Regions from separate parts of the Homo sapiens genome. Here regions 1 and 3 are each reported to be linked to region 2. Evidence: microRNA targets listed by miRTarBase, many of them from high-throughput screens and not tested one by one. Region 2 holds a microRNA gene; each other region holds the end of a gene's coding sequence.

Region 1 (4,366 bases), not on the chromosome of region 2:
CTGGCACTTATAGCCCTTGAGATAGTACCGCCAGCAGCTCCCTGTGAAGTGCTAACACCCCTTCAAAGCAGCACCAACCCAATTGTGAACAAGCTAGGAGTAAAAGACGTAAATGAATTGGTCACCCCAATGCAGGGGATACAGACTTGTTTTAATATAAAAAAGAAGTGGCCTTAACCGTGCAGGGCTTGCAGGCCTTTGTAGGCATGGGAGCATGCTGTGATCCCTGGTTCTGTGCTAAACACTCAAAAGGGCTCTCTGACTCAAGTGGAGGTGATAAACCTTTTCAATAGTAACAGGAGAGAGTGTGATATCAAAGTGCCAGAAGTCCTCACGGACCAACATTTAGCACAGACATTCAAACTGCTGAAAGAACCAAACAGAACTCAACTGAAAAAAACAGACCTTTTAAGAAAAGCAATAGATCTTAATTTGGTGGCAAGATCCCTGGTTTACCTTTTGAAGTCAAAATGTTCAATACATCACCCGAGCTTGACTTTTGAGCACTTGGCAAGATTGTTTTTTGCCACTTGACACAAGTATGATGTCCAGCTATGCAAAATGACTGTTTGATCTGCCTTTTCAGTGTATTTGTGTGGCGATGTCTGTAAAATGCCAGAAGCCTCTTATGTTATTGCTGCTGCTGCTACCAGCCAGCAACTGCAGAGGCCATGCTGAGGTGCCTCCTTGCCACCAGCCGTTGGGAAATGCCTACCATGCTGCCCCGGATGCACAAGCTCAAAACGCTGCAGAAGTTACACAACTGCTCCCATAATCTGGACTCTCCAAAACCGTGATGCCACGAAGGAAGGTCAAGTTTTAAAATGTTAAAGACTGCTTGCCTCTGTTCCTGAGACTAAACAGTATACATACTAACTACATTGACAAAGAAATCCTATCTGATAATGTAGCCCGCTGACGAATTTTGAAGCCTCGGTTACCCTAACCAATATGTAGCTTTTAATTTGCATCAAAACTTTTACAAAGATGTTTTGCTATTGTTTCTATATACTTCAAGAATGTTCATTTTTACAAATAAGTTGAACAAGACAGCCTAAGTTAGATGCACCGAAGTACTAGAAATATCGCTAGCCTCTGTTCTCCAGTTTAGCTTTCAAAACCAAATGAGCCATGTATAAAGGAGTTGAGAAACTTAATTTTTAAATGTTTCATTTGCAGAGTTTTATATCCATTAAGTGCCTTTGAAAGTTTCCAGTTGTGTGGGCTGCTGTCTCACCTCCCACCAATTTCTCCTTTCTCCATATGGTGCTAAAACCTCAAAGCTGAGGAGGGCTGCAGGACCCTTAGCAGATTCAGTGTGTCACCCTTGTCCTGTGTTCACGCCAAGGCTTCCTAAATGAAAGACATCGGTTACCTGCTTATGGGAAGGTGAGCAGCAAAGGAATTGAAGTTCGGGACAGGGTAGAATTATGGGTTTTCATTGTGTTTCATGCCAAACCCACAAAATCCAAAATAGAATTCAAGTTAAACAAACTTCTACTACAAAATGGAAGGGGAAAAAGGCTCAGGAAGGTCTATGAGAATGAGCTGACTTATCTCGTTAAATCTTAAGATAAATGAGGGTAACCCAAGGCTGCACCTTGGTGTACCACCCTGAGTGGAGTTGAGGTGACTTCATTTGATTGCTTCAGGCGAACTATATAGGTCAAGTCCAGATTATAAAAAAATTATCTGCAGAACAAATTGTAAACCCAAGGAATAGCTGGTAAATCAAAATTATAAAGTGAGTTAGAGTTCCTTGGAGTTGGTTGTATGACGGAATATGACTTGGACAATCTTTACCAGAAGCCATCCGTAAGCCCCTCAGTCACACTTTCCATGTAGCTGACCAGTGACTACAGGATGTGGCTGACAGTGCTCACTGAAAGGAGAGTTGGTGCGGGACTGGTGGTTCTGAGCACATAGACGCCTATTAGTCCTTCTGGTCAGTGAACGAAAATTCTAGACCTACAGTTACTGGCTACTTGCATTTGTCAGTTTAGAGAAAAGGTAAAATGAGGCATTTTCAATTGTAGAATAGACTAACATTTACCACAGAAGTGCTTCAGCATTCTAAATGGATTAGATCACTCATTAAGCTATTTTTATATGCCAATTTACTAATGCCTTACATCAATCCACTAATAGGTTGTTGGGCCCGCAGTAGAGTCCCTATGCAGTCCCAATTCTGTTTTCTGTAACCATGTGACTGGTGATGCAGAGTGATAACCATGTCTGCCTATCTTGTACTAGACTCTTCATGCTGATCGGATCTTGCATTGAAATAACCATGTGGAAGAACAATGAATCGATTAATGATGACATGTACAACCATATTTAAAGAGCAATAGTGTCCGTGTGTCATGAAAAACTTATTTGTAAACGTTTATATGGTATGATTTTGATTTTATGTATGTTCATAAATCCTGCACTGTATGATATATGTGAGTTAAAACATTGGTGCATGAATTTATTTTCAAAGTATAAAACACATCACTTAAACATTTTATGTGTCAAATAAAATTTGATTATGTAAACACATTTGTTGACTTTTGTTTCCACAGTAAACAAACAAACAGCTGCACCATCAGCTGAAAAAAACCCTTCTAAAAGCACAAGCTACCATTCGCTGGTTGAAGCAGTTTACCCACTGTGTGCATTTTTAATCTGCTGCAATTTCATGAAATGAAAATACCAAAGCATATTTTAAGTCTATAAGCTTTATTGATACTTTGCTTTTACAGTTCACAATGCATTCCACAGATTTAGTTCAGTACAGCTTAAACCACAATGGTATAAATCTTCATTTTGTAATTAATAATTTCTTGCATAACAATGTTTGATATTTGCAAACAAACAACATTTTTGGAAGCATTAGATTCAGTCCATAGATTCTGTGACAAAATTAACTACAGTCAGTCTGTGCAATGAAATTGATGTTGGAGTTCTATGTGTGTGGCATTTCATGTTGAAAACAGATGGTAGTGCTCCTAGAAATATTTCTTCTTCTAGCTTATGTGCTTTGGAACTACACATGTATAACCAATGACTGACTCTGAAATATCAAGCACTGTGGGGTGGCTGGAAGGTAAAGGTCTAAGCTTTGTGAAACACTATACATATATAATCTATATTTACTTATATTGGCAATTAATATAACAGTAAAAGTCACAATACACCTAGAACATACCAGAAAAGCAAGCTTTGTCATTCCTGCTTTACCGGTATGATCTCGTCTAAACAAACATTTCATTTCAGAAAATCTGCATCAATCTACACGGACCATACACAGTGCACAAACTGAAAAGGGCTTTTTTTTTTTTTTTTCTAGCTCCACCATCTCTGCAACTTGCCAAGATGCGGCAAGACTATCTGCAACAAAGTAAAATATACAGGTTTTTTATTCCACCAGTGCCTCAGATAGATAGGAAAAAGATATGATTACGGTTTAAATCCATACATAGCAGCTTACAATACTTAAGATGATGAACACATGGCAGTCAAGACAGGTAATTTTTCCTCACAACAGTGCATGGCTAAAAATAAAGATCTAACAACGATCTGTGAAACTGCACTGCAACGTCAAGGTTCGTTCTTCCCTGACCCTCCCCCGTATAATCAAATGAATATCCCCTTTAAAGATGAACTCCTACTAATTATTTTGGGCGTTTTCATTCAGCTTTGCGCTTCAATCCAGGGATTTTTGCTTGGATTCTGAAAATGAAAAAGTCAATGTAAATATCAGTTTTGTTTGCTGCTGCTTAAAATACCATCTTCCAAGAACTACTTGTATGTTATTCAGCTAATACAATAAATGAAATCCTTAAAGCTGCCTAATTCTAAGCTATAATTTTGCCACCTTGGCCTCATGAATTAGATTTAAACAAAGCCTTAAACACATAATAAACCCAGAAACGAATGGTCCAAATGTTAGAAAAACAATCTTTTGGCAACTCTGAAGTCACACTTAAGGTCTGATAGAGATTTGTTACTCATTATGCCTGCAATATGAAAATACTGTTCTCACAATCCAGCACACCTTATCCTAGTAAAAACACTGCAGATTTTAAATACTTACTTAGCCATAGCATCTTTAACATTCTTATTTGCAAGTCCTAGATAATGATCTATCTGTGCCTGAAAGAGAGGTATAAAGGAATTATTACCGTTGCTAAAGAATCTTATTAACCACTACTATGTGTCAAGCTAAAGGCTTAAGAAACCATCACACTTCTCATTTTTGTAAGACATTGAAAATGGGCACTAATACATCCGTAAATCCCATGTAATAGAGTGAGTGCTCTATTCTGAAGTCAGCAGTTAGTTAGGAAATTACCTGATGCCGTTCATAAATAACAGGAACACT
Region 2 (4,000 bases):
GCACAATTATTTCATGCTTTTTTTTCTCTTTAAAATCTATTGAAATGGCCAAGATGAACAAGGAGATGTGACCTTAGGAGAAAAAAAACATAGGATATTTAAACTGCATGTTTAAAACATGATGAGGCTGATACAAAAAGGGAACAAAGAATAAAATACAATTCTTAGAGATATGTTTGCCAAATCAAATTTAATGGAAAATTCCATATAACCAAATGAACACAGCCAGAGACCAAAGTGATGATCTCTAGGATAAATTAAAAGTCCCCTAGAATCTAGATCAAAAAGAAATGTATACAAAAGAAGTGAAAAGTTAAAAAGTCATGGCAGATAGGACTAGACGTTCCAGAAGGCCAAATAGTGGTGATAGTTATAAAATATAATTTTATAATGTTTCCCTGAACTTGATAAAAACCCGGATAATAAGACCAAAATTGCTTACCAAGAAGAAATAAATTAAAAAGTTACATTCTGGTGGTAGTTTTAAATATTAGATGTATTTGTTTTGAATAAATAATAAATTCACATGTAATGTTATACAACCTATCTTTACCTGGTTTTTGGTTTCAGGGTAATGCTGGCTACGTATGTTCAATTTTTGGAATAGTTTGTATGAAATTGCATTATTTCTTCCTTTAATATTTGATAAAATTCACCAGTGAAGCCATCCAGGACAGGACTTTTCTTTATGGGAATTTGTTTTAAAGCAATTTCAATTACTTTAATAAATATAGGGCTATTCAGGTTATCACTTTCTTCTTCAGCAAACTTGGTCATATGGGTCTTTCAAGGAATATATTTGTTTTATTTCAATTATCACATTTAAAAGCATTAAGTTGTTCATAACATTCTTATTATTTTAATATCTGTAGAATCTATAGTAATGCCACCTCTCTAATTCCTGATATCAAGAATTTGTATGTTTTCTCTTTTTCTTAATCATTCTGGTTAGAAGTATATCAATTGTGTTGATCCTCTCTTAGTTTTATTGATTTTCCCTATTGTTTCTCTGGTTTTTATTTCATTGATTTCCATTTTGAACTTTATTTCACCAGCTTACTTTGAGTTTTATTTGTTCTTTTTCTAGTTTCTTATGGTGGCAGCTTGAGGTCATTAATTTGAGACCTTTCTATTATTCTCATAAAGACAGTTAGCACTGTAAATTTCCCCTTAAGTACTGCTTCAGCAGCATCCCACAAATTCTGATATGTTGTATTTTCCTTTTAAAAGTTTTTTCTAATTTACCCTTTTGTTTCTTCTGTGATCTATGGCTTTATTAGGTTGGTACAAAAGCAATCGCGGTTTTTGCTATTACTTTTAAAGGCAAAAACTGAGACTACTTTTGCACCAACCTGATAGAAGAATGTTATTTTGTTCCCAAAAGCTTGACAATTTTCCATGATATATTATTGACTTCTAATTTACCTCCATTGTGGTCAAGAACATTCCTGATAGGACTTGAATTCTTTCATCATGGTAAAAGTATTCCATGTGCAGTTTAATGTGTATTCTACTTTTGTTGGGTGGAGTGATCCATAAATATGAATCATGGTACAGATGAGGCAATCAATGAGTTTATTCTACTTTCTGCCGTTTCTGGAGGAGTCTCTTTTTCTTCTTATTTTTGTTAACTGCATTGTCAGCATAGGTAACATACCTTGTTGTACTAATTCCCATTTTTGTTTTAGTCTTAATGTTTATCAGCAGTCCTGTTGCCATAGTTGCCTCAGTCATTTCTTGGTTGGCTGAAGTCAATCTGGTTGGTAGTCATTTGCTCAAAAATGGTTCATGGGAGCAGTATTCTCCTATAGTTCTTGCATGTGTGTAGCTTTTATAATTTAAGAACAATTTAGATAGATACAAAATAATTGGATCAAACTGCCTTTCCTTGAGGATCTCAGTAGAACTTGTTAACAGGTAGTTCTACCTTCTTCTGGAATTGAATGTACAAAAATAAGAGGCCAGTCCATTTTCTTTTTTCCCCATGATAAGTGACTTAGTCATTTTGCTTGGCCAGCCAAAGTATTATTTCTAGATTTCTGAAATTTTAAGAACTATATTTTATTTATCAGTGTTTATTTTTCAGGATCATATTTTCCTAGTATACTCTGGGCCAATTCAACATATAGGTTTAAGTTTTATTTCAGTACAGTGTTCTTCAGTATATTCAGTATATATTCAGGGTATATATGCTTTCTGTTTGCCATATATATTCAGTGTATATTCAGTATAGTGTTCAGTATAGTAAATATGTCACACAGTGACATATTTAGTTTGTGTTGTATGTTTTTACATTAAAATATGTATCTGTAAGTTTGGTTAGTATGAACAACAAACTAATTGGAATGGTAAAGAAGAAAAGAAAGAATAATGCATAATCTCATCATAATCACTTTCAGTGGAATGTCACATAAAAGCACTTTCAAAAAATGACTTTATAAGATCCAAATTCTTAGTCTTAGAAAAACAAAATGTTCAAGGGCTGAGGAAGGCGAGCGCATGGCGCGGGACTGGCAGGCAGCTCCACCTGCAGCCCTGGTGCGGGATCCACTAGGTGAAGCCAGCTGGGCTCCTGAGTCTGGTGGGGACGTGGAGAGTCTTTATGTCTAGCTCAGGGATTGTAAATACACCAATCAGCACCCTGTGTTTAGCTCAAGGTTTGTGAGTGCACCAATGGACACTCTGTATCTAGGTGCTCTGGTGGGGACGTGGAGAACCTTTATGTCTAGCTCAGGGATTGTAAATACACCAATCAGCACCCTGTGTTTAGCTCAAGGTTTGTGAGTGCACCAATCAACACTCTGTATCTAGCTGCTCTGGTGGGGCCTTGGAGAACCTGTGTGTCGAAACTCTGTATCTAACTAATCTGATGGGGACGTGGAGAACCTTTGTATCTAGCTCAGGGATTGTAAACGCACCAATCAGCGCCCTGACAAAACAGGCCACTCGGCTCTACCAATCAGCAGGACGTGGGTGGGGCCAGATAAGAGAATAAAAGCAGGCTGCCGGAGCCAGCATTGGCAACCCACTCGGGTCCCCTTCCACACTGTGGAAGCTTTGTTCTTTCGCTCTTTGCAATAAATCTTGCTACTGCTCAAAAAAAACAAAAACAAAAAACAAAAAAAAACACAACAAAATGTTGCTTTACTCTACTGCAAATCAGACAGGAGAACCAAAATTTAAGATACTTGAAATGTTATCAAGTGATTTTCTTATCCCTCTCATTGATGTTTAGTCACTATGTATATCTTAGGATATTAAACATGCTAGACATTTTATTGTTTCTTGAACATATCAGGTAAATTCTAGCCTTGAGATCTTTGTGCTTCCCATCTCTCTGTTTAGAACTCTTTTCTCCTAAATATCTGTGTAACTTTGCCTGCTCCTTCAACTGATCAGATAGATATATATAGCATGATTTTCATTCGGCCTTCTTCTCTGTCTCAAATAGTCTAACAATATTTTATTATTTAATATTTTTATATATGTGTCTGTATCTCAAACTTGTTAAATAACAGTCAAAGGGGCATGCGATTAAAGTACTGAAATGAATAATCCTGGTAAACAGAGAAAGCATAGGTGGTGATATATGATACAGTCTTCTAGTAAGTAGGATTAGTGTCCTATTGGAGGTAATTCTTCTGTGTTTTAAGTGTGTTTACTAATATGAAAACATTTGATTTTATTATTAATCTCTTGTAGTTTAGATGTTATCCTAGAATAACACATATGCCTCACCTCTAGCTTATTCTATAGGGCCAGATTACAGTATTACAAATTGGAAATCAATGAGAACTGAAACATTAACAACAAGAAAATTTTAAATAACATTGCATTTACTTTTATATGCTTTGATGGTTGTCACCAAGTATAGTACAGCTGTTACTCTGAGTAAATGGCAAAGTAAATTAGTAATATTTATTGAAACTTTTTATGATATTGTAGTCATTTATCGATTACCATGTTTATTAAAATAATTACTTTATCTTTCTCCATCCTT
Region 3 (4,366 bases), not on the chromosome of region 2:
AGCCTGCAGCGCGTACTCTGAAGAACAAGAGAAAGGCTTCAAGGGAAAAATTGAAAAAGACAGGGGGACACTGTTTAAAAGCAAAACCCAAACCACCTTTTCTGTCTTGTTGCTGAGAATGAATTCAGATTGGGATAAACAACCTTTTCTTTCTTTTTAAATATCTAGATATTTTAAATATATCTACTTATATTCCACTGTCCTCAACTGGGTAGAAATATTAAAAAAATTATCAATATAAAATGCTGGTTCTTGCTTCAATATTATCATTTTGAAGGAAAACCACACAAAACCATTACCCATTCTAATGACTTTTTTGGCCAAATTATGTATTTGGGTCCACATTAATCATTAAATTAGTATAACCTTTAAAGTTTTCAAGTTAGTGCAAATTTAAAATTCAATAAATATATTAAATACAATTTTACTTTATATTACAAATGTAAATTATTTTTCTTTTGACATGCTGGTAGTATTCATTTTTACAACGCAAACTGACTTTACAATTTCTGAGTCACAGTATATTTTATAACTCTAAGCAAATGTATTTCACAAAGCAAACACTATATGTTTTTGACATACTCTAAAAAAATAAAAATAAATAATTTTGATTATAAAATTTGTATAAACTTAGCTACATTAGGGGTTCACAGCTAATTGTTGCAGAAAACCTAAAACACACCTAAATCATGTAACTTTACTAGCAGACAACTTGTATTTTAAAACACAAGTCAGTTTGATTTCTATTAAACATGACGAAACACTGAAAATTATCATCATCTGCCTAAGGGATCTTTAAGAGCTGCCAGGTATTCAGTATTTAAGCCACTACGTTTATAGGAATTAGGAATGTATTGGGATAGTAAAAAGATTAGAGAAATCTGGAAACAGACATGGAGATATGATTTACTTCATGTATTTCTTCCTGAGAATGTAGAAGTTATTTTTTTAAATATCAAGACAATTTAAAATGGAACAGGAAAATCTTATGGCAATTTTTTTTGGTAAAGTGTAGAATCCCTGGTAATATAAACAATCACTACCCTAATATGTAACTTGCAAACATGAAGTCTTATAAATTGTACTTAAACAAGGCACATGCCTATACACTTATTTGAAATGCTGGGTAAATGTGCCCAAAAAGTAAGTGAATTTTGCAAAAACAAGATAATGATACATTTTATGAGATGGTATTCTGAAATAGCTTCCCTAAATGAAGTCTAAATAAGTGAATAAGCCAGCAGAAAAACTTCATGACAGACCAGTAGTGATGCAAAAACCTTACTAGATTACAATAACCAAAAAATCAACTTATTTAGATAAATGAGGGCATTTTACATAAGCCTGTTCTAAATACAGTGTAATATTATGGTTGGTATTAAAATTATAATTTTTAATTGTAGTTTTCACAATTAAAAAGCTGTATTAGTTATTGTGATTATTTTCGTTCCAACATCCTAAATTGATTTGCTTCTACTACAATTAGCACTACGAATTATATAACAGGTAAACTATAACCTACAGCAAAGTGGATTTAACAGTGTATTTATAAAATGTGATGTCTTTAACAATTTTGATCATGAATGAAAGGATAAACTTCATAATACTCAGAACATGATTGGCCCATTAAAAAAAAAAAAAACAAAACTCTGCCATCCTCACTGCCATGGTTACTTACCATGAAAGGTATATAAAGAAGCTGAAAACAGATCTGCTCACAAAGTTTCTCAAGACTAGAATTTAAGATCACCTGAGGAGATCTGCAAGAGGTTAATTTAGCAAAATAGAGTATTTCATAAAATGTACTGACTACTGTATACATTACTAAGTTGCTCTTTGAAAACATGGTCTGGGCCTGAGGTGAGGCAAACTTAGGTTTATGGCAATTCATGGATGACAGATTCATAATAGACCCTCAAAGATAGCTAATGGTATTTTGGGGGATACATTCTGATCTTTCAGAGATTAATGTCATGAAAGACCACAAAGCCTGGGCCATGTGTCAGAAAAACACCAGGCTGGATGCCCTCTGGGTCAGCCGACCTGTGGGTCACGACCCTTGGGCTGGTCAACAGCAGCGAACAAGCACCCTCTAATGGGAACCATGAAACTAGCCCTTCAGTAAGTTTGTGGCAATTGAGGGGCAAATAAAACAATGAAACAAAGCTTTCAGTTATCCAAAAGTAGTTCCCTAGTGCTTTTCATGCCCTCCTTCATTTTTCAATACAATGAGGAATATTTGTGAAGAATAAGAATATCTAGATTTCTGTCAGGAGAATTAAATTAGAATTTTAATTAATAGACTAAATTTCTATCTGATTGTGACTAGCAGAATTTATGTGATCAATTTAACTTATTAAATAAAGCTACAGAACGTAAACACTAAACACAGGTACCATACCACAAGGTAAATAATAAATAATTTAAAAATATATCTCTCTCATTTTAAAATAAATATGATATAAACATTTTAGCAAAGATTTCTGTCCACTTACCTCCCTAAGGGGAAATTCTGTTAAAAGACTACTGTATTTCAAAATACTACAAGACCACCAAATTTTTAAAACTTATCAGTCAGCCTTGAGCTTTTTCTAAGCAATTAATCTCACCGTTGTCTCCTTTAAGCACGTTTTTTGAAGTGTTGACACTGTCTTTTAATAAAAAGAGCGGCTGATAAACAGTTCAGCTCAGAACCTATAACTTACAATCCCAAGTGCTCTGAATCTTATTTCTTACCAATTCACTTATCTGTTTCTCTTTTGGCTACACTGGTGTTATAAAAAAGATCCTGAATTGCAGCTCAAATGGTTACCTACAGAATTAAACAACATTTACGTGTCTGAATAAGTTCCTAAAATAAAAATTGTAATACAAATTTTAAGTATGATCTTTTTTTACTATTCTCCTTTTGGGGGTTCCTAGAAATCAATACATACACTTGGTTTGGGTTGTAGAAAATCTTAAGGGGCATGCTGCAGGAGGATGCTCACAATTAACCATGCTGGTTTGACAGTAATCATTTCCTTTCAAAAAAGCAGGTTAATTTGATCTTTCCACCCACACCTTGTTGGAGATATAATGTGTCCATCCATTGTGTGTCCATCATATGCATGGTTCAAAAATAAGACATGAGACAGCACATACTTCAGAGTGAGTCCCACTCTCAAAACAGTCATAACAAATTTTCACTCTCATGTAAGTTTTTGTGACTTTTTGTAAGTTAATACTATTCATTTGAAGTATTTTGCTGAAAAAAGAACAAACATTTGTAAATAACTGAAGGCTGGCTGGTTTGGGGATGCTATTTACAAAAATGTATACCCATTATACTACTAGTGAAATTAAGACTGAATAGCTGATAGAGAATTTCTATTAATACTTTTGGATGAACATGTATCTACTTGCGTGAGGATTCTATGCAAAGTTTTCACTCCCTCATCCATCTATTCAGTCGCCTTTATATCTTCTTGATCCGAAGTACTAGAGATGTCATCATCTGTTTGTTCTCCAGAGAAATATAACATCATTGCATGTGTCTTGTGAGTTATGGTGACAGTGCAGGGCCCTTGGGCCCAAGGCTCCCCATCCACCTGCATTGGCATCATGGAGCACTTCAAAATCAGCTGATATTAGGGAACAAATAATGTTTAAAAGTCAGTCCCCCCAAATTTAGAAAGGTCTTCCTTAATAATACCATCCACAATCCCTTAACCCTTATGCATTTCATTTTTAGAAAATATTAATCTGAATATGTTTTTATTCATTGATTAAGGAATTCTTTTTTCAAGTGAACGTTTTATCTCATGGATCTTGAGCCATGTTTCTGTTTCTTCCTCATCCCACTCTAGCCGCTAGTGTACAGTGACCAGCTGCATGAGCCATAAACCACTGTTTAAAGAAAAGTATAGCATGTATATTTTACATATCAACAGCTTAGAATTGGATTGGGACAAATTAGCCTGTTACAGCTATATTTCACCTACCCTCACTGTATGTGCCTGTCCTATTCGAAAAGGATTAGCCAGTTTTACTTGAATCTGAGCACAGTGGAAAGACCCATATACTCCAACGACTTCCAGCAGACCATCGTCATGCCTAAAATTGGAAAAAGAAAATATGGATTATATGATGCAATAAAAAATCAGTTATGCTAGAGCAATTACTTTTTAACACAGTTGGACCATCAACTTAAAAAATATTTATAACTAATGAGATACACAAAAAAGAAAATTTGAGGAAAAATGTTAAAGTCTATAAACAAGAGATTGCTTTAAATAAAATAGTGACATAAAAAAACAGACCACAAATGTACATACCTGGCTAGAGGGTAAGTCTCGTCCCCCATCCCTTCCCATAGTCTGCAGCC

The links. The annotated mature microRNA hsa-miR-548e-3p reads AAAAACUGAGACUACUUUUGCA and lies in region 2 at 1,326-1,347, shown strand. An mRNA with a match to its seed (bases 2 to 7 or 8) in the 3' UTR can be bound and repressed. Matches are read on the target gene's strand: a 7mer-m8 pairs with bases 2 to 8, a 7mer-A1 pairs with bases 2 to 7 and ends in A, and an 8mer does both.
Region 1: miRTarBase lists EML6 as a target of hsa-miR-548e-3p. Seed matches in the 3' UTR shown: 7mer-A1 at 816-822 and 7mer-A1 at 1,180-1,186.
Region 3: miRTarBase lists DGKE as a target of hsa-miR-548e-3p. Seed matches in the 3' UTR shown: 7mer-A1 at 2,562-2,568.

Annotation. Positions count from the first base shown.
Region 1 is chr2:54,969,485-54,973,850 of GRCh38, forward strand. EML6 (EMAP like 6) reads left to right here. Exons shown (of 42, transcript NM_001039753.4): 42 at 587-2,541. The coding sequence ends at 611. It overlaps RTN4 (reticulon 4), which reads right to left. Exons shown (of 9, transcript NM_020532.5): 7 at 4,337-4,366; 8 at 4,079-4,137; 9 at 2,705-3,714. The coding sequence ends at 3,672. Among named protein-coding and RNA genes, the nearest start is that of RTN4, 79 kb to the right of the region's middle.
Region 2 is chr10:110,987,653-110,991,652 of GRCh38, forward strand. MIR548E (microRNA 548e) reads left to right here and starts at 1,274; the gene lies at 1,274-1,361. All of the region lies in intron 3 of SHOC2 (SHOC2 leucine rich repeat scaffold protein), which reads left to right.
Region 3 is chr17:56,861,869-56,866,234 of GRCh38, reverse strand. DGKE (diacylglycerol kinase epsilon) reads right to left here. Exons shown (of 12, transcript NM_003647.3): 10 at 4,317-4,366; 11 at 3,984-4,095; 12 at 1-3,623. The coding sequence ends at 3,444. All of the region lies in intron 1 of LOC124904037 (a long non-coding RNA gene), which reads left to right. Among named protein-coding and RNA genes, the nearest start is that of MIR3614, 27 kb to the left of the region's middle.